7 linked regions of the Homo sapiens genome follow. The protein of the gene in region 4 purifies or fractionates together with the protein of the main gene of each other region. This does not show direct contact. Each region holds a gene or a part of one and is shown on either strand. Other genes may lie near its edges. The genes, in order: PUS7, POPDC1, DLGAP3, DUSP5, C2CD5, C11orf58 and ANKRD17.

Region 1 (3,500 bases), on a different chromosome or scaffold from region 4:
GGATTACAGGTGTGAGCCACCGTGCCCGGCGAACAAAAGCTTTAACAACAAAATTTACTATTCTACTTAGTAGCTGAGCTCTCCTTTTCTTCAATAGCAGAATTGACCCACGATGAGCAAATAAATGCTCCCCTACTTCCTTTCCCCATTTCCTCCCCTTCCCAGAGTCCCAACTGAGGCCAAGAAGCTGCTGAAGCCAGAATCTGACCTGGGTCACATACCTGACAGACAGCAAATGGTGGTCCTGTTACAACGGACATTGTGGTATAATTGGTACTCTGGGATTCTAAACAACATATGTCGCTGTTCATTTGTGGTCCCTAAATTTTTTTTTCAGAGATGATGTCTCACTATGTTGTCCAGGCTAGTCTCCAATTCCTGGGCTCAAGTAAACCTCTGGCTTCAGCCTTCGGAGTAGCTAGGACTTTGGAATAGCATGTAACACTGTACCCAAATAAAAATGTTTTTAAACAAAAATGTAACTTTGGGGGGGGCTATAGTTTATCTGGGATACTAGTTATCTGCCCCAGTAAAAAAATTTTTTAGTGTAATATCCTTTAGATCCAATAGAGCAAAAAGTCACCCTTTGTTAACCATTGTAATTTTTTCCATAAACACTTAACATCCACCCAAAAAGCAACTAAAACCCTAAATAATTTTTCATATATTTTTGCATTAGTTACCTCAATGGCAACACTGGTTTCCTTATTTTTGAACAGCTGGAGCTCTTCCAATCGCTGCTTTTCTTCAGCTGTCAAAACTGTAAATATGTCTTCTGAAGGGTCCTTTAAAATAACCATGAGAACTCACAATGAATCATACATAGAATTCAAGTTTAATAAAGCTCTATATTTCTAAATCTCTAGGAAATGCTATTTTTATACAGAAGGTGACATTTGCTAAAGAGCTACTTCTACCTCCTCATCCACTGGAATGGACAAGTCATTCAAATGGCTGATCCGTCCATCTTTTCCTATTTCATGAACAACGAAGTCGGAGTATCTGATGAAAGAAAACATGAACTTTCAGATAATTAACATCCTGTTTTCTATTAATTTTAAGATAAAGTTGATCAACAGCAAGCCTTACTATTATGCAAAACAAGGAATTTTAAAAAATCTTCAGTGCAAAATCACATGGAGTTAATTTTTTTTTTCTTTTTTTTTTTTGAGATGGAGCCTTGCTCTGTTGCCTAGGCTGGAGTGCAGTGGCTCGATCTCCACTCACTGCAACCTCCGCCTCCTGGGTCCAAGTGATTCTCCCGCCTCAGCCTCCCGAGTAGCTGGGATTACAGGCACGTGCCACCACGCCCAGCTAATTTTTGTATTTTTAGTAGAGACGGGGTTGCACCATTTTGGCCAGGCTGATCTTGAACTCCTGACCTCAAGTGATCTGCCCATCTTGGCCTCCCAAAGTGCTGGGATTACAGGCGTGAATCACCACATCCGGTCTTTTCTGGTTTCTTAATGAATGCTGAGCCATACCTTGGCTCAAGTTTTATATGAGAACTTAAAGAAAAGACCCTCTTAGCTTCTAGAATATTCTTCCAGAGAAATGCAAAAACAAAAGCTTATTAACATTACCCTATGACGATTCAGGCAGCCCACACTAAATTAAATCACAAAATATGCTATATGGTTAATTGAATCAGAACCCAGTAAGTCTACCATGAACTAGCCTGAAGCTTACCTTTATGTTAAATATTTTACATGCATTATTCAAAATCCTCAACAACCCCAATGTGGTAATATGATCCATTTAAAAATTTTATTTTATTACTATTATTTTTTTTGAGACAGAGTCTTGCTCTGTTGCCCAGGCTGGAGTGCAGTGGCTTGATCTTGGCTCACTGCAACCTCCGCCTCCTGGGTTCAAGTGATTCTCCTGCCTCAGCCTACCGAGTAGCTGGGATTACAGGCGCGTGCCACTACGCCAGGCTAATTTTTGTATTATTAGTAGAGACAGGGTTTCGCCATGTTGCCCAGGCTGGTCTCAAACTCCTGACCTCAAGTGATCTGCCCGCCTTGGCCTCCCAAAGTGCTGGGATCACAGGCGTTAGCCACCGTGTCTGGCCTGATCCATTTTTTAAATAAGGATGCTGAGGTTCAGAGAGGCTAAGTAACTACTAAGTAGCGAACTTCACACTGGGATCCACCTGGCTCCAAAGACTACCTTCTTCTAACATAGTTGTGGCACATTCAAATGAAAAAAGAGTTTAAGATTATAAAACAAACTCAGGAGAAAATCTGAAACCATTTAAATGAATTTATTCATTTACTTATTTTTTTGAGACAGAGTCTTGCTCTGTCACCCAGGCTGGAATGCAGTGGTGCAATCTCGGCTCACTGCAACCTCCACCTCCCAGGTTCAAGCTATTCTCCTGCCTCAGCCTCCCGAGTAGCTGGGATTACAGGTGCCCATCACCACGCCCAGCTAATTTTTGTATTTTTAGTATAGATGTGCTTTCACCATGTTGGCCAGGCTGGTCTCAAACTCCTGACCTCAAGTGATCCGCCAGCCTCGGCCTCCCAAAGTGCTGGGATAACAGGCGTAAGCCACTGTGCCTGGTGAATGAATTTATTTGAGGCATGATCATGCCACTGCATGCCAGCCTGGGTGACAGAGTGAGACCCTCTCTCAAAAAAAGGGAAAAAATTAATTAATTAAAATTTAAAAATCCAAGGCTATTTATTCAGGCAGGTTTCCTTCATCCTATTCCTTTTGATCAGTAGTATAAACAAGCCTTGGAGATGGAAAGCTAAGTGGAAGAATATAAAGCTAATTTCTTTCTAAAGAAGAAACCTAATACAATCAAAATAACTTTATTCATAAACTAAATGTACCTTTCTTTTAAGATTCCCGAGAACCCTTGATGAGAACTCACAAACTTGGTGATGCCTACGTCAGCCTCAGTGAGTCCATGCTTCATCATGTCTGCAAAACTCTCTGATTCCTCCTCCTCGCACTCCTCTGAAAGTCCATCTTCCTCCTCTTCTTCCTCATCTTCCAACTGAGCCTCAGAATTCTTTCCACCTTTCCCAGTACTGACAGTGTCAGGAGGCCGAGGCACGTCTTCACTGATGGACAGAAAGTCATTCTGTAGCCCATCTTGACCTTTGGTTAGACTGCATTCCGACAGCTTCTGTTTTTTTGTCTCTTCAACTGGGACTCCACTGTCATTATCTTCGACAACCAGTGCCCCACGTTTCAGCGACACACCAGTCATTTCTGTCATCTCCATCTTTAAGGCTCCAAGAAAACATTTAAGAAAACCTGTTAGGAAAGAGTAGAAAGTAACAATCACCTATATAAAAGCTGGTTTCAGGCCGGGCGCGGTGGCTCACACCTGTAATCCCAGCGTTTTGAGGGAGGTTAAGGCAGGCAGATCACTTGAGGTCAGGAGTTCAAGACCAGCCTGGCCAACATGGTGAAACCTCATCTCTACTAAATATTAGTTAGGCGTGGGTGGCAGGCGCCTATAGTCCCAGCTCTTGGGAGGC
Region 2 (2,836 bases), on a different chromosome or scaffold from region 4:
ACTGGACACAGTGGCTCACACATGTAATCACAGCACTTTGGGGGGCCAAGGTGGGTGGATTGCTTAAGCCCAGGAGTTCAAGACCAGCCTGGGCAACATGGCTAAACCCCATCTCTACAAAAAAAATTAGCTGGGTGTGGTGGTACATACCTGTAGTCCCAGCTACTCAGAAGGCTGAGGTGGGAGGTTCACTTGAACCTGGGAGGTTGAGGTTGCAGTGAGCACAGATCACACCACTGCACTCCAGCCTGGGCAACAGAGTGAGACCCTATTTCAAAAAAAGGCTGCTTTCACTGTACTGCTGCAGCAGTCTCTTCAGGTAGCTAAATTAGGAGCTTGTTTTGGAGAAATGAAGCAAAGGTGAATGACAGCCTAGGCTTGAAATTATAAAGCTCTCTCAGGTTGAACTCTCTCGTGCGCTCTCGCTCTCACTTTCGCCCTGTACCTGAGAGCACAGGTGTAACTGTGATGTCATAGTGCCGAGACTACTTTCCTTTAACCATTGGGGTTAAGTTGGGCAGCCCATTTAGTTTACACGCGCATAAGACTAATTTACAAAATCACTCTATACAGTCATTAGATGTAACATCCTTCCCTGAGTAGAAAGTAATGCATGTGTTTGGAGATTATTTTCTGTAATGCTGGGAACAAACCTGTTTTAAAAGCACACTGCTAAAAGTAGGTGATATAAGACCATTTGCTGTTTTTATTAAAGTATGTGTGTGTATCAGTGTCTCAATGTGAAGATTGTAACCTCAAGATTAGGAATCTTAAAAGAGCCACTTAGCCTGAATGGGAAACGTGAGACTATTTTTAAACACACACCTCTAAGGAAGAAGCCTCCCATATAGACTTGATCTCAAAGAAGCAGATAAGAAGACAGAAAAGTGTTTTAAGTGTAAGATCTCCTATGGAGTACTTTAAATTCATTTATACAAATGAATAAGTGTATCTTTGTATAATGCATAAATACATAGATAAAAACATGTTTGCTGCCAAAGTTCCCAATAAGATGCTTCCTGTGTTTTTTGGCCTTTACTTAGCTGAATGATCAAAGTTCAGAAAATGGTCTGCAAAAGTTACTCCATATACAACCCCAAATCTACTACTTTAAATGTAACATCAACTCAGTTGTATGAATCTGGAGTGTAATATTTATATTAGAATGTATATGTCATTTAAAATATTTTGAAAGCCCTCATAAATATTTATATTTACTAAACTAATAGCATAGACACTATATAAATCCGCAGTGATGCTTATATATCTTAAATTAGTAATAATGGGTGCTATATAATTATTTTCAGTTACTATCCCTGACACTCTGGAATCTTCTCCATTTCTCCCTATCACTCAATTTCATTTTAATCATTGGACACCTTTGCGTTTTGCTGCTAACAGTGTGTGTATGTCACCCTCTTTATATCTGGTTTTCCCACTTGTCTGAAGCTCTCCTGATCTTAGAACCTGGAGCTGCAGATTCCTCCATGTCAGCTCCCATCACGGCCCCAAAGACAGAGTCACTTGGTTGCTGAGTCACTTGGTTGCTGGAAAAATCTTTGGGGAAAGCTGGTATAAGCTACACACTGACCTGTCCCCAGTGTTTCCAGGTAATGACTTGGCACTCCAGAGAAAGTTTCATGCTGTTGCGTGTGGTGGCTCCAAGCCAAGCACCTGGCATGCAGGTCAGCCCTTCCCAGCGGGCGTGGCGTCGTCCTCTTCACAGATGCCACGTTGCAGCCCCAAGGCCTCACCATTTTGCGTTTTTTAGAAACCCATTTTCTTGGTCATTTATAAAGCTGCTTTATAGATATCTTTGATCCTGGCATGCCTTGGTTTCCTCTCCCTTCCCTCTTTCCAATCCTGGTTTCCTAACCTCCTCTTGTAGTAATTCTCAACTCAACTCAAAGTCCCAAGAATTTGGAATGGTAGGATGCTGTGCGGGGAGCTCGAGGCTGAGGCATAATCACTGCTTCGGTTCTGCTCATCAGGGGACACGCTCCCTTACTCATGGCAGCCATGTTTGATTGTCACAGAGCCCCCCGAATACTCTGTCTATAGTGACACACTGTAGGTGTCATAAATTTTAAGAAACCTGCTTTTAAGTACTATTTATAGGTTTTTCTGTTATACTTGCAACCTAGTTTTAAAATACATGAGGATTTTATGAAAGCTTTATACAGACATTTATAGGAAACTCATTCTTTGATTTTAGGTGCCATTTAAATTGATAACACTTACTTTATAAAAAGATGCTTTTTGTCTGGATAGAGCCTTATAGTTTAAAATATCTTCATATATTGCCATTTGATCAAATAAATTTCTTACTTAGAAAATGTGTGTATTTTTTATTTCATTCCTCTTACATATATCTAGCTTGTTCGAATGTCATGCCCAAAGGCCAAGGTTGTGGGGATGGGCCTGGTGCAGGCCATTGTATTCTGAGCAGACCAGCAGGGGCGGTGCTTGTGGGTCGGTCATACCTGACTTCAAAGGTCCTGCCATCTTGGCTGCTTTGACTGTGAAAAAAAAAAATGGCCAGAAGGCAGTGTAGACAGTGTTGACTAGATGCAGCAATGGAGAAGCCTTCAGAGTTTTATTGATGGGACTTAGTGGGCTTCAGCTTTTTTTCTATTGCATCTGAACATTCACTCCCTTCTAGTTTCCTAAGATTCAACAATATGAGGAGTCACATGAAGGAGTCAGAAAACCTCCCTGGATCTGTTCTGTGGTGGATGAGGGGGACAGTCTTTCTATTCTTTGAGAAACCCACGTTTTCTCCCATCAGCTGTCCTAGATATTGGAATGGAAACTTGACAGCCCATCTTTTGGCCTT
Region 3 (4,025 bases), on a different chromosome or scaffold from region 4:
TTTCTCTATTCATTAGGAACCCAATAAGGTAAGGAATGGTCTATCCAGCTAGAGGCAAAATGCACTGGAAACTGGGGAGGATGAAGGAAAACAAGCTTAGCCAGCTCGAGCCCCAACATCAGCTGGAAGAGATGATGTTAGGTGTCAGGCAGCCGCTGAAAGCAGGTACTAACATGAGAAAGTCTGGGAGTCTGGCCTGTAGCAGCTCCAGCCCCTCACCAGCAGGAATCAAGACAAGACAAGCCCATGGCCTACCTCGGTGGTGGGTGTGGCTAGGAATCCCTATCCCCAGCGACATCTGTAGCGCCCTCTCTTTGGCAAGGAGTCCCAAGCTGAAAGATGTACAGCCTTAGGCTTTTTGAGTCTTCATTTCTTTTCCAAAAATCCCCTGTACTCAGCTCTGATGGGGGTGGGGAGAGTTCAGGAATAGAAGGCAACATGGAGGATTGCAAAGTTCCTCGTCTAAGATTAGCCTAGGAACTCACAAATTCGTTGTGTGACCTTGGGCAAGTCCCCTCCCTTCTTGGGGCTTCAGAGTCCCCGGTTTGTAATGAAGAGGTTGGACCAAGTCAATACTAAGGTTCCTCTCCTGGCCATCATTCTACAGCTACATACAAGCTCACTCGTTGGATGTGAGCCCCCTGGCACAAAACTCAGCGGGCCCTGCCTGCCAGATCAGTGGGGCAGTGGCGGGTGGGAGATGCGGGGGCTGTATGTGAGGCCGTTCATCCTATGTTCATGTTCCTTTTAGAAACACCTGCCACCCTAGCCCTCCCAGCTCCCTTTTTAGACCCTGATTCACTGCCAACTCACGAAGCCTCTCCCTCCCCTCCCTCCTCTCTTCTCCCCCCACCCCCCACTCTTTTAGGCATTGGCAGCTGGGTGCAGAAGTAGCCCCAGCATTCAGGGAATGCTGCGCAGTGGTAGAGGGCAGTGCCCCCAGGGTCAGAGAGAGCACACCAGGAAGTACCACTCTCTAACCTTGGCCCAGCCCAGTTCTTTGGGTCACTGAAAGACCTGGGCTGAGGTCTTTCTGTACCACTAACTAGCAGTGTGTGGTTGTGGAAAATGCAATTCATTTCTCAAGCCTCAACATCTTCATCTGTAAATCGGCATTATATTTGGTTGAACCATATGAAATTGCTGTTTTTGTAGGTTAAATAAAAACAGTTGAATATTGCAGTTGCATATGGCTTAACGTGATACCTGTCCTGCCTGCTTCCCAAGGCTGTTGGGGAAATAAGAAGAGTTCAGAGGGCAGCATTTTCAAAAGCCCTGAACTAATATGAGGGCATTATTTTATTATTATTACTTCAAAGAGCTTAGTACAGACCCACCCGGAGCCAGTGGACTGAACCAATAACCCAGAACTTGAAGGTTTGGGACTTGGAAGTCTGGGAGAGCGCCACCTGCTCTGATGACTAACAGGGCAGACGCTTCCACCTGGCCTCCTCATCTCCTAGCTCTAAAAGGCCCTTGGTGAAACATTATTGAGATGACACAAGTTCCCAGGCCCCCAAAAGGAGAAGCAGCACACGCAGGCACATACTCCAGCTCGCCCCAGATCCCCCCTCCCACCCACCAGGGGCCTTAGCATGCAGGAAGGACACGACCAGCAACATCCCAGAGGGCACCCCCTGAGGTAGGTGAAGGTAGAGACCAAGCTGGGGAGTGCCACAAAGCTCTTGCCTGAATCAAGGGTCAGGGGTCCCCAGAGAAGTGGGGAATGATCTGACCTCGGAAAAGTCTCATCTCCCTGTCCCATATCCCACCAGGAATGGGGGGACAGTGGGGGGGACAGAGCCCAGGTGTGGGTGATTCAGAGTGAACCGCGCTCAGATACACTCTCTCTCACACAGCCAACGCACGCGCGCGCACACGCACACACACACACACACAGTCACACAGGGCAGATACCGGGACCCACTCACAGAGACAGTCACGCCGGCACACACATCCATTCACACACTCACAGACACACACAGGCACACATGGGGACAACACACACTCATTCACTCACATGTCCACAGATGCATACACAGTACCACCCTCCACACTCACGCTGCATACACCCACTAACATGCACACACACTCTCGCCCACAGTGACACACGCACACACTCACGGCATACACTCACCGGCACACACAATCGCCCACAGACCCACACAGTGACACACTCGGCACAGACACACAGCGACACGCACTCACATTCACACACCTGCAGAGGAAACTTCTCTCCGGATCTCCCCAGCACCACGACTTCCCCCACAACCAGCTGGCTACTCCCTCCCAGACCCGAGCCTCCAGCCGGGCGAGGGCTGGGCCGGGGCTGGCCTGTCCCCGCGGCCCTGACCGGGAGCGTGGGTCCGCGGTCCGCGTGGTCCCCTGCCCGCCCCTCGGGTCGGGCCCGCGGGCAGCCAGGCCGGGGCAGGAGCGGGGGCAGCTGAGGAGGCCCAGCCCCTCCCCCCTCCCGGGGCCGGGAGCCGAGCGCCGGAGCCCGGGGCGTGGGCGGCGCCGGGGCCGCAGCCGGGCCGTGCCTGGGGGGCGCTGCAGAGGGAGCCGCGAGCGCGGCCCCGTCCCCACTCCTCCCCGCGGCTTACCTGGCCCGGCTCGGGCTCCGGCCGGGTTACATGGTGCCGGCGGCCCGGGCCGGGGGCGCTGCGGCGTTGGGCAGGCGGGCAGGGACCGGGGCCCGGCACTGCGGAGCCCCCAGCTGAGGGGCCGCGCCGGCTGCGGAGCCCCAAGCGAGCGCCGAGCGGCAGCGGGCGCGGGAGCGGGAGGCGGCCAAGCCACGGAGGCTGGATTTCCCGGGGACCGGGAAGGGGAGGCGGGGGGATCCCGCCCGCGCGCTCCGCCCCCGCCCCCGCCCCCGCGCAGGGCAGCCGAGCAGGGAGAGGGAGAGGGAGAGGAAGAGGGAGGGGGACCGAGCTCCCCGCCCCCGCGCGGACCCAGGAGGGCCGAGGTCGCCGCCCGCGGGCGGCCGCCGGGGTCCCGGAGGAGCGCCCACCTCGCTGAGCGACGGTGCTGGGGGCGCCCAGCGTAGGGGCAGGAATGAGATCCCCCTCCCCGGGGACCCAGGAACAGGCACCCGAAGTGTCACGGCCACGCACAGCCGACCTGGGTACAGGGACCCAAGCCCGGCGGCGGGCGGGCGGTCGGGGACCAGCTCAGCCTCACGGACCGGGTCTCGCCCCCCGCCGAGGGGCAGTCACGCCCTGAATGTCACACACAGCCCCCAGGCCCGTCCGCTTAGGAGACTCTCCTTCGGGCTTTCCCGGTCGGCCGCCTGACCTCAGCTCCTGGCTTGGGGTCAGGGAGCCCCCCTCTTCGGCCCCAGCCCCTGCCAGGATGGGGCGCTGTGCCCGGCCTCGGAGCCGCTGGCAGGCGTCCCCCACCCACAGTCCGCACAGCCGAGGCATCCCCAGTGTGGAGGGAGAGCCCCGCTGTACCTGCCGCCTGTGCTGGGCCCCCGCCCGTGCCCACTGTGCCCGCCCGCCTCTGGGCCCTGAGCCTGGGATTGTGCCATGGCGGGGTCGGGGTGGGGGGAAAGGGACTGTCCGAAGCACAGCTGGAGGCTGCGGAGCCCGGACACAGGCTGCGGGAGCCGAGAGGCGGAGAGCGGACTGCAGCAGTCCCCTGGCTTGAATCCGTCTTGGCGCCCAGAGCGATGCTGTAATGGGGGGGAGGGGGCCACGGTGGGGAAGCCGCAGGGGGAGGGGCTGAAGACGTGGGGGAAGGGGTGGCTCCGGATTCCGGCTTTCCAGGGTAGGTGTGAGGAAACACTGCCTCCGGCGCTGAAAGTTGGGGGTGGAGGTTCAGTGGGCATCCTTAAAGCCCTCTTCCCTCCTCTACCTTTTCCGGTCTTGAAAGCTTGGGATGGTGAGGTGTGGGCTTGGGAGGCTTGAGACTGCCCACCTCTCTAGGAACATACCTTGGAGTTGTTCTGATTCAACGGCCCCCACCCCGCACCCCAACAACTCCCTGCTCTCTGTTTCCTTGTGGGGCCACCGGCTCTCCTCCCTGTA
Region 4 (4,064 bases):
CAATGCTGGCTGTCCTGGTGTCTGATTTGATTGCATCTGATTTCAAAATTTGATCTCTGCTTCCTTCTGAAAACCTCATTCCCTTATGTCAGTTGTCAACAAGCCCTTGTCTAGTGCGGGCAGACTGTTTTCCATCAAGCAGTCCCAGCCAGGCTAACAATAAAATGGTTGGCAGTGAGCTTGGGGGCAGAAACCTGTTTCCATCCATGTGTCCCCGCAGCTAGCAAAGCCCTGGCACACGGCTGACCCTCAATAAATGCTTGCTGAATGGGTGAATTGTGTCTGCTTCCCCAGGAATAGGGGTGGGAGGCCTGAAGCCCCTGGGGACCGGTGGGGGCAGACAGCCTGAGATTAAACTTGATCCATAGATAATCCCCCAAATCCAGAAGCCACCTGGACAACAGTTGGCTGAACTGAGCTCCATCGTGGGATACATGCTGATGGTACTGCTGAGTTCACCAAGGGTCTCCCCGGGACCAGAAAACAGCTCCTCAAAATACAACTTATTATTCTAATCATTATTGGAGAGTGACAGAGAAAAGAGCGTCAATCCTTTGAGGGCAGAATCCATTTAGGAAGATTAAATGGCTATTCTCACCGCCGACCCCCAACCCCCGTTTTTACTTTTACAAACTTTATTATGAAAAATATCAAACATACAGAAAAGTGGAGAAAACAGTATAACGAATCCGGCCACCCATCACCCAGCCTCAGCGATGACCAACCCGCGCCTGACCTCTCCAGTCATCTATACCCCACCCCTCGAGGCAAATCTCCGACGTCCTCTCCTTACACGCGCAGACCTCGGTAGCGACGGGAATCCGTTCCGGACTCCTCTGGGGCCCTGGCCGGCTCCCTCGGCCCTGCTCAGCGCGGCGCGGGCGGGTTCTCAGCCCACGTCCGTGAAGCTGAAGGCCGGATCGTGCGGCGCCGCCCCGCCCCCCACGGCGCTTCCTCCTCGGTCCGCACCGCGAGGGTCACCGCGGCCCCGGAGCGCCTGGGACACTCGACCGGCAGCCGCGGGTGATGCGCGAGTGAGTCCCTCAGCGAAGCGCGGAAGAGAGAACGAAGAGGCGCCTTCCACTTCCTCTCGCTCTAACGCCGGCACCCGCCCCGCGCGTCCCTCGCCCCCGCTGCCCCGCCCCCTGCAGGGCGTGGCCACGGCCCGAGGGGCGGGGAAACACCCATATTTGGCCTTATATGGGCAGCCGCGTCACGGACGGCACTCATTCACATAAAACGCTGCGCGGCCGGCGGAATCCCCGGCTTCTAGGGCGGCGAGCGGCCGGGCTGGCTATCGAGCGAGCGGGGCGGGAACGCGGAGTTGCGCCGCCGCTCGGGCGCCGGGCTCCGTCGCGGCCGCAGCCCCGCGGGTCGCCCTCCCGTGCCTCGCCCGCGGACACCCTGGCCGTGGACACCCTGGCCGTGGGCACCCGCGGGGCGCGCGGCGCGGGGCCGCTGGCCGGCGGCGGCGGCGGCATGAAGGTCACGTCGCTCGACGGGCGCCAGCTGCGCAAGATGCTCCGCAAGGAGGCGGCGGCGCGCTGCGTGGTGCTCGACTGCCGGCCCTATCTGGCCTTCGCTGCCTCGAACGTGCGCGGCTCGCTCAACGTCAACCTCAACTCGGTGGTGCTGCGGCGGGCCCGGGGCGGCGCGGTGTCGGCGCGCTACGTGCTGCCCGACGAGGCGGCGCGCGCGCGGCTCCTGCAGGAGGGCGGCGGCGGCGTCGCGGCCGTGGTGGTGCTGGACCAGGGCAGCCGCCACTGGCAGAAGCTGCGAGAGGAGAGCGCCGCGCGTGTCGTCCTCACCTCGCTACTCGCTTGCCTACCCGCCGGCCCGCGGGTCTACTTCCTCAAAGGTGAGCGCTCGGGGTCCCTGCCACGCTCGCCCCTCCGGCGCCCCCGGGTCCCCTCCCTGCGCCGGGGCGCCCTCCTACACCCTGGGACCGGGAGAGTCACCACCTGCAGGAGTCTGCACCCTGTGGCTTGTTGTGCGCTTGGGAGGGCACTGCAAATGTCAGCACTCAGAGCTCCCCCTCTTCCCCACCCGCGTTCCTCGAAAGCGCCCGGCAGCGGGTCTGCCCGGTGGTCTGGGTGGAGTTGGTTATGCTGCGGGGGCTGCTGCTGTTTAGCAGTTTGGGGGCCGTCGGCTCGTGCCGGGCACGAGCCCCCTTTCCAGACGCGAGCTTCGCCGCTGTCGCTGGGGTCAGGGCTCGGGGCCTTCCTGATAGACTGATCTGGCGGGATCAGCAGGTCGCGATCCACTCTCCCTTGGTGTGGCGCCGTGGTGCCCCCCTTCCTCCCGCCTAGCCAGCTGTGGTCTTCACCGACCCCCTTGCCTTTTTGACCTGGCGAGTCCCTTCCCTTTCCATTTCATTTTATTGCTTTTTATTGTTTCCCTCCGGCCTCTTCTCCCCTCCTAGGTCTTTTCTCTAGCTCAGTTTGGAGCTCACATCCTTTCCACCCTTTTCACCTCCTCCTTCCTCCGCCCCAGGATTATCCCTGGGACCCATCCTGAGCTGAGCCTACAGCCAGCCAGCCACGAAATAGAGGTGCGCGGGGGCAGGGTGGTATGGAGATTCTGCGGCCTTTGATTTGACACCTCCCGGAGCTACCGCCACAGGCCTGCCCATTTCACCTGCCGGGAAGATAACTTTGGCTTCTGGTGGTGGGTGGGTGATTGACTCTCAAAATCCAAAGCATTGGTTTTTTCTGGGTTACTTCCTATGACTGCTCCTGCTTTGTGTTTGAGTCCTTTGTAACCTCAAATGACACCCGGGGAGACCTGACCCACATGTAGAGATGAGGGTTTAGCCCCAGCAGGGCCCCAAGGCCGTGCCAGCCCTGGCGCGGACACCTTGGGATGTAACAGTGTTGGGGATCAGAGCTCGGTGCAGAGAGCCGGCGCCGAGTTAGGAGCCTGTTTTAAAGCCATGCAACTTGAGTTTCACACAGTCCGGGCCAGGAAGATTCTGGAGACAGTTCCCCTCTCTGCTAGCACCTCCTGCTGACTGGTCCCCTGTTGATTTCCTGTTGGAGAGTTAACAGAGGTAGATGGTAATCGTCCTTCTTCTAACAGCCTATCCCCCAGGGGATAGAGGGTTGGCCCTCTGGCTCTGCAGAGGTTTCAGCGTGCCTCCTGATTTCTTTCTCTTCCTAATATGGTTTTTATCTCCTGTGGTTTGGAGAAGTTTCTGCCTCAGTAGTATGAAAGAGGTTCCAGGAGACCCTCCCTGGTCCCACCTCTCCTCCCCATGCTTCTCTAAGCTGGCCCTGCTGACAGTTTAGAAGTTGTCGCCACAAAGTAGGCAGCTCTATAGACTCACATCTCAGGAAAACTGGGTTAAAATGTTTTTTAAAAGAAGGTAACATATACACAGGTAAAAATTTGAACAGCATGAAGGCCCTGTGATGAGAAGCGGGTCTTCTGCATATCTTAGAACCCAGTTCCACTCCCCAGAGACAGTCGTCAACTATTTTTTGTTTACCTTTAGATAGTTTTTCATAAGTATCTTAGAAATAGATTGATTTTGTATAGTCCCTGTCCTGCCTCTTGTATCTATCTAGATCTTGGAGACTTGTCCATATCTGATCATACATGTCTGTTTCACATTGAACCGGTCTCCTGTAATGACCATTAGGTTGCGTCCCGCCTCACTGCTCCAAGCAATGCGGTAGATGTCCTTCTCCATGTGCTCTTGCGTGTGCAGTGCCTTTCAGTAAATCATGAGAATTGCCAGGTCAAGAATTACATGCATTTTAAGTTTCAGTAGAAATTGCTTCATGCCTACCCTTATAACACTACTAAACTTTAAATTGTTGCCAGAGAAAATTTTTATTTCTTTACGTAATTCATGTGCAGATAGGAGTTCAGGTTTTAATCTGGTGGCATCTCAGATCTTGGTGGGGGCAATGCCTTTTGACACTTTCCATAATCCCCTGTCTCCCAAACAACCACTAAAATGAAATGGTGATGACTGAATTGCGTGGTCAGTGCTTATTTATATATAGTATCTGTGCTCTCTCTGTTCCCTGGTGATGTGGTGGTGATTGAAAGCAGACTCA
Region 5 (3,500 bases), on a different chromosome or scaffold from region 4:
CTAAATAATAGTGCACAGGAAAATCATACTATATATACATGTGTATGGATATAGGAATGCACACAAAATGTCAAAGAATATATATTAAAACATCCTAAATTATCTTAATATACCAAATAACTTAAACTTCCCTCACAATGGGGATTTACTGCATGAATGAACAAACATTGACTGAACACATGTCCAGGCAAGGATTTACTACCTTTACTTTACAGATGATAAAACTGAAGCCCGGAGAATTTGTAATTTGCCCATGACTAGCTATGATCAAATTAGCTAGTAAGTAAATGGCAAGGCAAGAATTCAAATTGTGCCTCCACCTTCAACATCTCCATCATATCATGCTCATCATCATTTAAACAAATTGATGATAAGCCTAAACGATAAAACTTACCTGTTATCTATATCTCTCATTCTGAACCTGAACCATGTTCCAATCAAACTTGCCTTTTTTTCAGTTTCTCAAATGCACAAGCACTCTTCCTACCTCAGGCTCACTGGCACATGTTGCTCCTGCAGACTTTTCATTTTTTTTTTTTTTTTCAGAGAACAACTCATTCACTCCTTGGTCCCAACTTACATATAATGTCTTCCGAGATACCTTCTCTGACTGTGAACTCTAAGTTGAAGTCCATTATATACTCTGATAGCCTCTGTTCAATTTCTTTATATTACTTACTCTCCCTAGTAATTAGATACTAATTATATGATTATTTGTTAATGTCCACCGTGCTCCAGTTCTACTAGACTGTAAATTCCATTAGGTCAGGGACTGTATCTGTTTTGCATACAACTATATGCTAACATCTAGTTCAACAGGTGCATATAATAAGAATTCCATATATAATTGTAAGGAAATAAAATCCAGTAGTTCAGGGTACTTTTCCCATATTGAAAAACAAGCAAAACAGAAATCAAAGGCTAGTCAATAGCTTGAAATGCTTTTCAACCTAGGTTTCCACAAATTCTATTGGACTTATTTACAGTCTAGGAGGAAATTTCCAACTTTAAACTGGAAGTGAAGGGGAAAAATGACTGCAGTATTAGAAAACCATTTTATTGGGTCACATCCTTCTGAAAAGCCTGAGGATCCTACATATAGTTGTATAAAGATATCTCTTTTTGTAGTTAGGGAATTAAGGGAGTTGCTTCAGCCTGCCTCCAACTCAATCATAGTTCAGTATATTTTTTGAGTTTTATCAATTTCCTGTTTATTAAATCAAAAAATTCTGATGACACAGTAGCTACAGAGGATTAATTTTAAAAATATTAATTAACTGTAAGAAAACGACTCAGGCAATTAACACATTTGGGATATGGTGCTACACAATTATTATTATAAGTTTCTGTTGAAGGAAAACCTACTAAGAAGCAACATTTTGAGGTATGGGAGCTTAAGTAGTCAAGAAGGCTTAGGAAATACAATTTTATGGATTCAAAATAGTGTAATATCCATGTGCTACCAAGAGCAAGTAGAAAAGGTTAATTCATAATATATGCCAGCTTTTCGCACCAAATCTTTGTCAAATTTAAATGGATGTAGAAGTATCATCTATTTTAATTCTCTATCCAAAGGCTTTTGAGAATATCTTCATAGTTTATTTTTCATCTTAACGTAATTAAGAGTGATATAAAAACTAATTTATCTTTTTTGGGGGGAAGGATAGAGTCTCACTCTGTCACCCAGGCTGGAGTGCAATGGCGCAATCTCGGCTCACTGCAACCTCCACCTCTCAGGTTCAAGCAATTCTCGTGCCTCAGCCTCCTGAGTAGCTAGGATTACAGGCATGTGCCACCATGCCCGGCTAATTTTTGTATTTATAGTAGAGAAGGGGTTTCGTCATGTTGGTCAGGCTGGTCTCAAACTGCTGGCCTCAAGCAATCTACCCGCCTCAGCCTCCCAAAGTGGTGAGAATATAGGCGTGAGCCACTGTGCCTGGCCTAATTTACCTTAAAGAAAACATCCATCTAATTAATTAAATAATCTGTCAGAAGCTATTCATTTATTTGCACAAAAACATATTGTGTTTATTCCATGCCAGCTACTGTGCTAGGCGCAGGATGGTGAGTATGATATTAAAGACAGTGTGCAGGCTGTTATTCCTAAGAAAGTATAGAAATACTGCTGGTGAAGAAGGGCACAGCTAAGTCATCTTTATAATGAATATACTTTTTAAAAATACAAACTGCAGCTGAAGTAAAATTTGAAAAGGTTATTGGATGTCACACCTCAGTAACTAAAAAATTTCCCTATTCACCATATTAATTTGCTTGGTAGCCCCTGTTCCTTAACATATGACACAACGTAATTTTTTTAAGTTTAAATTCCTGTGTTATAAAAGATATAACAGGCTGACTCTGATTCTGAACTTTTCCCACATCAAGTAAAATATTACAACTTGTTATTTAAAAACCAAATTAAAGTTTAATGATACTCAGTGTGAGGTAAGACTGAAGAAATGTCATCCTCATACACTAACTGAGAGAGTAAAAAATGAGCAGCTTCATTCCTTTCTCAGGAGGAAGAAACAGCAGAGCTAAATTACATAAAGTATCTCCTTAGACATGTATCTGTAATACAGTCCTCTACTATTTCTAAATGTGATCTGTCAAAAATTGCTAAATTACTGAGGAAACGAAGCTGTTCTTTCAGGGCTATTTTAAACTTCTATTTGAACACAGATATTTGTTTTATTTACTATATGATAAGGTTCTAAGATTTCTAACAATAAATAGGTTTAAAACTAACACAATTCTTGTGATAATCCTCGCTGCTAAATGAAATAAACTCTAGACTCAATCCAGATAATTAAAATATAAATAAATATTTGTAAGTTTTTGGCAAAAAATAACAATTTGAAACTTAGTTTTGTTACTAAATCTTCAGAGAAAATTTTTTAAAAAATGAAATAACTTCTATAAAATTACCTCCCGAAGAGAAGTAGTCTCTCGAATAAAAAACATGTTAATTATCCCAAGATACTTAGTTATTTTTGCTCCAGGAATAAAAGAAAGAGGTGTCATCTTAACAACCCCAACTGTGGAATTTGCACAAGGTGGAGCAGAACGATTCCGGAAATTTCCATCACCCACTGGACTTGCTTTTTCAACTGTCATGGCTAAAATTGGAGAAAAATGAGAAAACATTCAGAACAGACGCTGGTAACACAATTATTCCCTGAGGTTTCCAAATAAGTGGTGACAACATTCAGCTGTCTGTGAGGCTAAGCCATGTCATGAAAGAAAAGAAATTATCATGCACTGCATGCAATTAAAAAAGAGAGACAGAAAAACATGAGAGGAAATGCTGGAATGGAATTCTTTTGGAAGAAAAATGGCATTCCTGCAAAAGAAAATGTTGATGCAGTATAGCTACACACACAATGATTGGTTATAAAGTGAAGAAAAAGAAAAAGCGGCTGAGCATTAAAATTATCTGCTGTAGGAACAAATTATTACAAGGAGAGTGTGAAAGTTGTTCTATTTCCCAGTGCAATTTT
Region 6 (3,500 bases), on a different chromosome or scaffold from region 4:
GCTTGTTTTCCCTGCAACTAGACGGTCCCATCTAGGGGTGATGGGAGACAGTGACACCCTAAGTGTGTTGCTTATGTCCAGTCTACTCTGTAATCTTGTTTGGCTGCTGTCACTACAGAAAACCCTGTTTCACAAAGACAGGAGGTTGGAAATGGAAGCAGGCTTTCCAGTGCTTTCGTGGCAATCTCAGGATGTTCCACTTTGTCTTTAATCCAGAATGTATGGAGATGTGAAGTTGTCTCAAACATACTTTTAAGGGCAACATCATTTGTGATCTTAAGCAGCTGATCCTCTTCTAGCATGAACAAAGTCGATTCACCTGGCTTATTCACAAATGGGTTGTGAATCCATTCCTTCCCAGTTCGGGGCTCTTTCGTGGCTGGAAAATAATACTCAAACTCTTTGAAGGCTGAGATAGGTGATCATGTGCCAGCTGGGAGAAAAAAGGTCCTGGCTCAGTCTCTTTTAAAATCTCTGCTAATGTTTGAAACATGTCAAAAAATCCCAATGTTCACTTGTGGCCCCCATAATACTAGTCTGGCTTTGAATGCAGCCACTCTATCTGCCAACTTGAACACAGTTTTGTTCTCCCCTGAGGTGACAGATTGAATATGTCACACAAGTAAGCAAGTTTTTTTTTTTTTTTCGAGGGAGTCTCGCTCTCTTGCCCAGGCTGGAGTGCAGTGGCATGATCTCGGCTCATTGCAACCTCTGCCTTCCAGGCTCAAGTGATTCTCGTGCCTCAGCCTCCCGAGTAGCCGGGATTATAGGCATGTGCCACCATGCCTAGCTAATTTTTGTATTTTTTAGTAAAGACGAGGTTTCTCCCCTTTGGCCAGACTGGTCTCAAACTCCTGGCCTTGAGTGATCTGCCTGCCTTGGCCTCCCAAAAGTGCTGTAATTACAGGCGTGACCCACCATGCCTGGCCAAGTAAGCAATTTTGTGACCCAATTCTGTGTCAACGAAATGTGCTGCCAGTGGTGACTTTTTCTAAAATGAAATCTCTGGAGCAGCTATTGTAACTGAAAAACAGTGGCCAGTGATCTACCTTTAGGAAGCCGTCTCTCTTCTGTGTATAAGAGAAGACGTGTGCTCTGTGTCTATCTTCTCACAGAGCTACATGAACAGATGTGAATTAAGGGCATGTACTTTAATGTGGTTGAAAATTTTAAGCACATCCTACAAAATGGTAAGTTCAGGTGGCATTTTCCAACTAGCCAGCATCTCTACAGATGACACAGTACACAGACTCACATTCAGAAGCAAGCTCTTTGACCTGAGTAGTGAAAACAGAAAGCCGTCCAGTCATGGCAGCTGCTCCATCCCTGCATATATCGATACAAAATGACCAATTCAGTTTTCCTGATATGTATTTAAAGACTTGAATAGTTCTGCAGCTGTGGTGTTGGTTGAAAGCAAAAGTGCACATAATATATCCTCATGCACATCCTCCTGAAAAATGTATCACACAAAAACAAGCATTGTTGCCTTGCTGTCAACACTGGTAGACTCATTAACCTGGATTGGGTACCACAGTGACTCATTAATTCTAACAACTGTGCCTCATATCCTCTATTAATTCATCTAGCTATGGTGCTAGCCAGAAGAGGAACATGTGCCACCTTTTGAACTGCAGGCTCTCCTAAGAGTTCACAACAGATGTCCTTAGCAGCAGGCAGGATCAACTCTTCACCAGTAGTAAAGGCCTTCTTAGCTTTAGCAATGTGATTAGCCACTAAGAATGATGCTCTCACTGCAGACACATTTGATGAAGTGGTGGCCTTCAATAATTACTTCTGTTCTTTGCGTTCACGATTTTTTCTTTTGAAAAACTCCAAAGGCTTGTCTTTTAATGCAGGGTGTTTGGTCTCCATGTGGTGAAGCACTTTTAAAGGTTTCATGGCTTTTCTGGATAGCTGGTCATCACATATTAGACAAAGCAGGTTTGGAGAATGTGAATCACCTATTGCAATGAACCTACAATTTAAGTAGGACTCTTGATATTTTCTTTTAAATGCCACTTTCTCTTTGTTGGCAGTATTAGAGTCTTCTGCTGTCTCATCATTGGGTCTTTCCCCCTTTTCAAAGAAGCTCTCCAAGGACGTTTGTTTTTTTACTCATTTTGGCTAGGGTTAGCTTGTGGGCTTACCAAAACTGTGACTGAGACAAATGCACAGTGCAGGAAAGAGACATGGATGGAAGTGGTAAATAAGTAATGGGCAGGCCACATGCAGATTAAATGTCAGATTCTGACTTAAAACCTGCCACTAGATGCAGCTTGTTACTTGCCACTCACTGAGAGGGTTTTGATATGAGTCTGCAAGCAGTTGATTGATTACGGTCTCTGTGCAGTCAAGCCTCTCTGCTAATGTTAATCTGTTTTTGCAGCCACTCCCCATTACCACCTCAGCTCCAATTCAGATCATCAGGCATTAGATTCTCATAAGGAGGCACAACCTAGATCCCTGGCTTGCACAGTTCACAATAGGGTTCATGCTCCTATGAGAATTTAATGCTGCCAATGATCTGATAGGATGCGGAGCTCAGGTGGCCATACAAGCCATTGGGAGCAGCTGTAAATACTGATAAAGCTTCTCTGGCTTGCGTGCCACTCACCTCCTGCTATGTGGTCCAGTTTCTAACAGGCCAGGGATGGGTACCGGGGATTGGGAGCTCCTGCTTTAAAGCTCTCAGTTTTAAAAGAGTAAATGTGGCAGTTGAAATATTTTTCCATTCTGCAAAGTTCAGGAATTGTTTTTTGCCTTATGTAGCAATACAAATCAATTTGAAGTAATTGTTTAACACTAGAAAAATAAAAGATCTATGAATTTCTAAAATGTGCTACATATGCTGTGTTAGCATAATTTAAATAACTTAAAGTTTTGTTAAACATAATCTAGGTCAATGTGTCTTTTATTAATATGTGCCTTTTATTACTAATGTCCAAGATTAGGGTCAGTTTTAAATAGGCAAAAATTTCACTTTTCAGCACACCAAATACCCAAATTCATTTTCAGTTTTTATTTAAAAATGTTCTTCCCTAAAATTATTTTAAAAGCTTATTTCTTTAGGCCCTGCAACTAGTTTATATTCTTCAAAGATTTTAAAACAAAATTTAGTGAATACACAAAACCAAATGCCAACTATGACATTATATGCTAATATACAAAGAACAAAAATTCTGTACATACCAGAGTTAACAAGTTGAGGCATAAAACCTCACTACAATTAAAATATATGTTCTGAATCAGTAAAAATGGAGACAGAAAAAGGTTAGTTTCTTGGTTAGAATATCATAATGACATATACTCTCTCATCTTTTAAAAATCAAAGTACATGATAATTGATACTTTATATATGTAACATGTTTACCTATTATACATTTCTAATTTTTTTTTTTGGAGACAGAGTTGCACTCTGTCACTCAGGCTGGAGTGCAATGGTGCTATCTTGGCTCACTGCAACCTCCGCCTCTCTGGTTCAGGCAATTATCGTGCCT
Region 7 (3,500 bases), on a different chromosome or scaffold from region 4:
TTATATCTTCATGTTTTGCCCTTTAATTAATGAAGCAGTTTACATTGTGTGCTGTGGACTGTCATATCTGAAAGCAAAAGCCTTGTCTTACTCATCTGTATATCTCCTGCTATACAGTACCATGTGTCTTATGTAAGTCTTTGTATCTCTGCTAGGTTCTCATGAAGTCCCATCTCTGTAGTAAGAATAACTCATAAATATTTCTTTATTAGCCACCTACTGTGGGAAATCTTTGGGACTTCAAGTCTTGAGGTAACAGAACTTGGTTGCAGCTATTATTTACAGTAGATCCCTGTGGGATGTTTTAATTGAACCATTATTTTTAGTTTAGTCATTTTTAACCTCACCAACTTAACTGGAGTTAGTATTGTGAAAGTTTTCAGTGTTTAATAAGCATCAAAGTAGCATATTTTGACTCTCGGAAATTCACTAGACTATCTGTTTCTGCTGTTACCTGATTATGCCATCTAGTTGATTAGGAAAACAGTTTTTAGGTCCTTGAGGCAGTGCAGTTGCATTTATGACAGTAGTTTATCTGAATTTTTATAAGGATAATTTAATGGGTTAAAAAATGTGGATTTAATGAGGACCTTCATAATTTTTCCATACTTGACCACAGATGAAAGGGAATTTTTACTTCACATTGGTATGCGAAGTAGTGCCTGCTGGTACCACTTATATTTTTGTTAGGACCAGTAGGAGGCACCAACATCCATGGTGTAACCTACACCAAACCTAACTTTTTTCAGCTTTCATCTTTTCAAAAAAAAAAAAAAGTAAGTCATTAGGGAATTGAAGGTGGTGGGTAAATACGAATACCCTTCTAGTCCCTTGAATCTTACCTATCTGGTACAGTTATGTCCATCCACTTCTTACCCAGAAGCAAAATACCCTTTCTGACTTAACAGTGCTTCACTTCTTAACATTTTTTTGTCTTTAGAAATTATTATTATTCATTCCTGAAGGGATGTAGAGTTGTGGGACAATATAGGTATCATTTTTATAATGATTTATAATTTGGGGTTTCAGTTATTGAAAAGGGAAATGTTAACTGTTATTTTCCCCAAGCATGCTATGAAACTTCAAATAATATAGCTCTAATTATTGAAAGCATAACTTAGACTGCCTTCTGTCCTGTGAAACTCATAAACATTACATGATCTTTTAAAGGAGTCAACTTTTTGTGTGTGTGTAGAGATGGCGTCTCACTTTGTTGCCCAGGCTGGTCTTGAACTCCTGGCTTCAAGTGATCCTCCTGCCGCAGGCTCCCAAAATGCTGTGGGATTATAGGCGTGAGCTACTGCATCCAGCCTGGGGTTAGTTTTTAAGTTTACTTCTGAGTGAGACTAGAGATAAAAGAGAGTGGGGAGAAGGAAATGTAAAGATTTTACATTTGAAACATCAGAGTGCTAAAAATAGAAAAATTAGTCGGGCGTAGTGGCTCCCGCCAGTAAGTCCCAGCTACTTGGGAGGCTGAGGCAGGAGAATTGCTTTAACCTGGGAGGCAGAGGTTGCAGTGAGCAGAGATCGCGCCCTTGCACTCCAGTCTGGGCGACAGAGTGAGACTCTGTCTCAAGCAACAACAACAACAACAACAACAACAACAACAAAAACCGTTACAGTACTTGAGGAATTCCTATTGGAGCCATTATTAGTGTCTTTAAAAACAACTCTTTTTTTCTGTTTTTTTTTTTTTTTTTTTTTTTTTTGAGACAAGGTCATCTATGCTGGAGTGCAGTGGCGTGCTCTCGGCTCACTGCAACCTCCACCTCCCGGGTTCAAGCAATTCTCATCTCACCTTCCTGAGTATCTGGAGTTGCAGCGTGAGCCACTGCGCCTGGCTAATTGTTTTGTATTTTTATTAGAGTTAGGGTTTCACCATGTTTGCCCGGCTGGTCGCAAACTCCCGGCTCCAAGTGATCCGCCCGCCTTGGCCCCCAAAGTGCTGGGCTTGCAGATGTGAGCTACTGTGCGCAGCCTTTATAAACAATTTTGATATATGGTGAAATTTCTCAAAGCTTGCTGATCATAGTGAATTATGCTGATAAGAATGGGAAACAAGATTATTGGGAATAAATTGAAAAATATTAAATAGGTTTTTATGCGTCAAGGGTAAAAAAAATGTGTTTTGAGTAAATGATCTGAAATACAGCATGCTTTTTTGGTAAAAGCTTAGTATAATGTAGGGTGAAGTTAAGGCGTTGGCGATAACCAGAATCATAATTCTCATTTTAAATAATGCTATGCTACATCTGCACAAAATAGATTATGTATATTTTTGGCTGCTGTACCATGAAAATGATGACTAAAACGAGGTCTAGAGAGGGATAGTTTAAAAATGATGGTAGGGCTAGAGATGGAATCCATGATTGAGGAGGACTGTAGATTTTACTTAACTATATTCTTTCTTTTTAATTTATTTTTATTTTATTTTATTTTTTTTGAGACGAAGTCTCGCTCTGTCTCCCAGGCTGGAGTGCAGTGGCGCCATGCCGTCTCACTGCAACCTCCGCATTCCAGATTCAAGTGATTCTTCTGCCTCAGCCTCCCAGGTAGCTGGGGCTACAGGCGCCGGCGCCACCACGCCCGGCTAATTTTTGTATTTTTAGTAGAGACGAAGTTTCACCATGTTAGTCAGGCTGGTCTCGAACTCCTGACCTTGGATCCGCCCCCCTCGGCCTTCCAAAGTGCTGGGATTATAGGCGTGAGCCACAGCACCCGGCCGATTTTACTTAAGTATATTCTTATTGCTTATTACTTCATACTCAAACTGACTTATAAGGTAGAGAAAATCATAATGTGTACCAGATAGTGCTATTTCAGTTTAGAAAATAAATTCATTTTTTATTTCTTGAGATTATTTGAAAGTACATTGTAGAAATGGCACATTTATGGAACTGCTTTATGGCTGTGCCTCTCTTGCAGGGAATTTTGCCTCCCCCTTTCCTTTTCCCAAAAATACTATTAGCTTGCCTAATTTAACCTTTCACTTTTTTTATCCCCATCTTCCCCCACAAAAGAAAGGAATAGAAAAGAAAAATACGAAAGTGAAGAAATAAGAACCTGCTCTAAAGTTATTTCTTGGTCTGGGTTTCTTTATGGATCATCTCTTAATTAGCTTAAAAACATTTGATTGAAACCTATTTTGGAAGTATCTATGGAAAGGTTGGTTCCATTAGTTTGGAATTTAGAATAAATATATGTTACCATAGAGATCTATTTTCCTTTCCCTCTTTTCCTGTCAACCTAAATGTGAAGATTGACAAGAAAAGGAAGCCCACCTGTTTGTGTTACAGTTAGTGTTAGAAATGCCTTTGACCCCATTGTTGTCTCTTTCTTTCTCTGTGCCATGTTTATTTTTTTAATGGCATTAATAATGAAAACAGTCTTGTTTCAAAGCCTCTAGTATAGCACATACTAGAATTAACTCCTACAGGAGTTAATTCTTTTACCTGACAAACATTTATTATCTCCTATGTGTGGCTGTTTTCATTGTCTAA

Evidence for each region.
Region 1: the proteins of DUSP5 (region 4) and PUS7 purify together in Homo sapiens (affinity purification with mass spectrometry, with the first as the bait; one large-scale study listed by BioGRID). This does not show direct contact.
Region 2: the proteins of DUSP5 (region 4) and POPDC1 purify together in Homo sapiens (affinity purification with mass spectrometry, with the first as the bait; one large-scale study listed by BioGRID). This does not show direct contact.
Region 3: the proteins of DUSP5 (region 4) and DLGAP3 purify together in Homo sapiens (affinity purification with mass spectrometry, with the first as the bait; one large-scale study listed by BioGRID). This does not show direct contact.
Region 5: the proteins of DUSP5 (region 4) and C2CD5 purify together in Homo sapiens (affinity purification with mass spectrometry, with the first as the bait; one large-scale study listed by BioGRID). This does not show direct contact.
Region 6: the proteins of DUSP5 (region 4) and C11orf58 purify together in Homo sapiens (affinity purification with mass spectrometry, with the first as the bait; one large-scale study listed by BioGRID). This does not show direct contact.
Region 7: the proteins of DUSP5 (region 4) and ANKRD17 purify together in Homo sapiens (affinity purification with mass spectrometry, with the first as the bait; one large-scale study listed by BioGRID). This does not show direct contact.

Annotation. Positions count from the first base shown.
Region 1 is NC_000007.14:105,505,272-105,508,771, forward strand, and holds part of PUS7 (pseudouridylate synthase 7 homolog), read right to left. Parts: intron 3,274-3,500; 5' UTR 3,242-3,273; coding exon 2,844-3,241; intron 1,003-2,843; coding exon 918-1,002; intron 786-917; coding exon 684-785; intron 1-683. UniProt on the Homo sapiens protein: Pseudouridylate synthase that catalyzes pseudouridylation of RNAs.
Region 2 is NC_000006.12:105,096,322-105,099,157, reverse strand, and holds the end of POPDC1 (popeye domain-containing protein 1), read left to right. Parts: 3' UTR 1-2,336; downstream 2,337-2,836. UniProt on the Homo sapiens protein: Cell adhesion molecule involved in the establishment and/or maintenance of cell integrity. Involved in the formation and regulation of the tight junction (TJ) paracellular permeability barrier in epithelial cells.
Region 3 is NC_000001.11:34,926,851-34,930,875, forward strand, and holds the start of DLGAP3 (disks large-associated protein 3), read right to left. Parts: upstream 2,801-4,025; 5' UTR 2,601-2,800; intron 1-2,600. UniProt on the Homo sapiens protein: May play a role in the molecular organization of synapses and neuronal cell signaling. Could be an adapter protein linking ion channel to the subsynaptic cytoskeleton. May induce enrichment of PSD-95/SAP90 at the plasma membrane.
Region 4 is NC_000010.11:110,496,643-110,500,706, forward strand, and holds the start of DUSP5 (dual specificity protein phosphatase 5), read left to right. Parts: upstream 1-1,264; 5' UTR 1,265-1,479; coding exon 1,480-1,858; intron 1,859-4,064. UniProt on the Homo sapiens protein: Dual specificity protein phosphatase; active with phosphotyrosine, phosphoserine and phosphothreonine residues. The highest relative activity is toward ERK1.
Region 5 is NC_000012.12:22,454,043-22,457,542, forward strand, and holds part of C2CD5 (C2 domain-containing protein 5), read right to left. Parts: intron 3,120-3,500; coding exon 2,929-3,119; intron 1-2,928. UniProt on the Homo sapiens protein: Required for insulin-stimulated glucose transport and glucose transporter SLC2A4/GLUT4 translocation from intracellular glucose storage vesicle (GSV) to the plasma membrane (PM) in adipocytes.
Region 6 is NC_000011.10:16,748,647-16,752,146, reverse strand, and holds part of C11orf58 (small acidic protein), read right to left. Parts: intron 1-3,500.
Region 7 is NC_000004.12:73,248,799-73,252,298, reverse strand, and holds part of ANKRD17 (ankyrin repeat domain-containing protein 17), read left to right. Parts: intron 1-1,710; exon of another isoform or gene 1,711-3,500.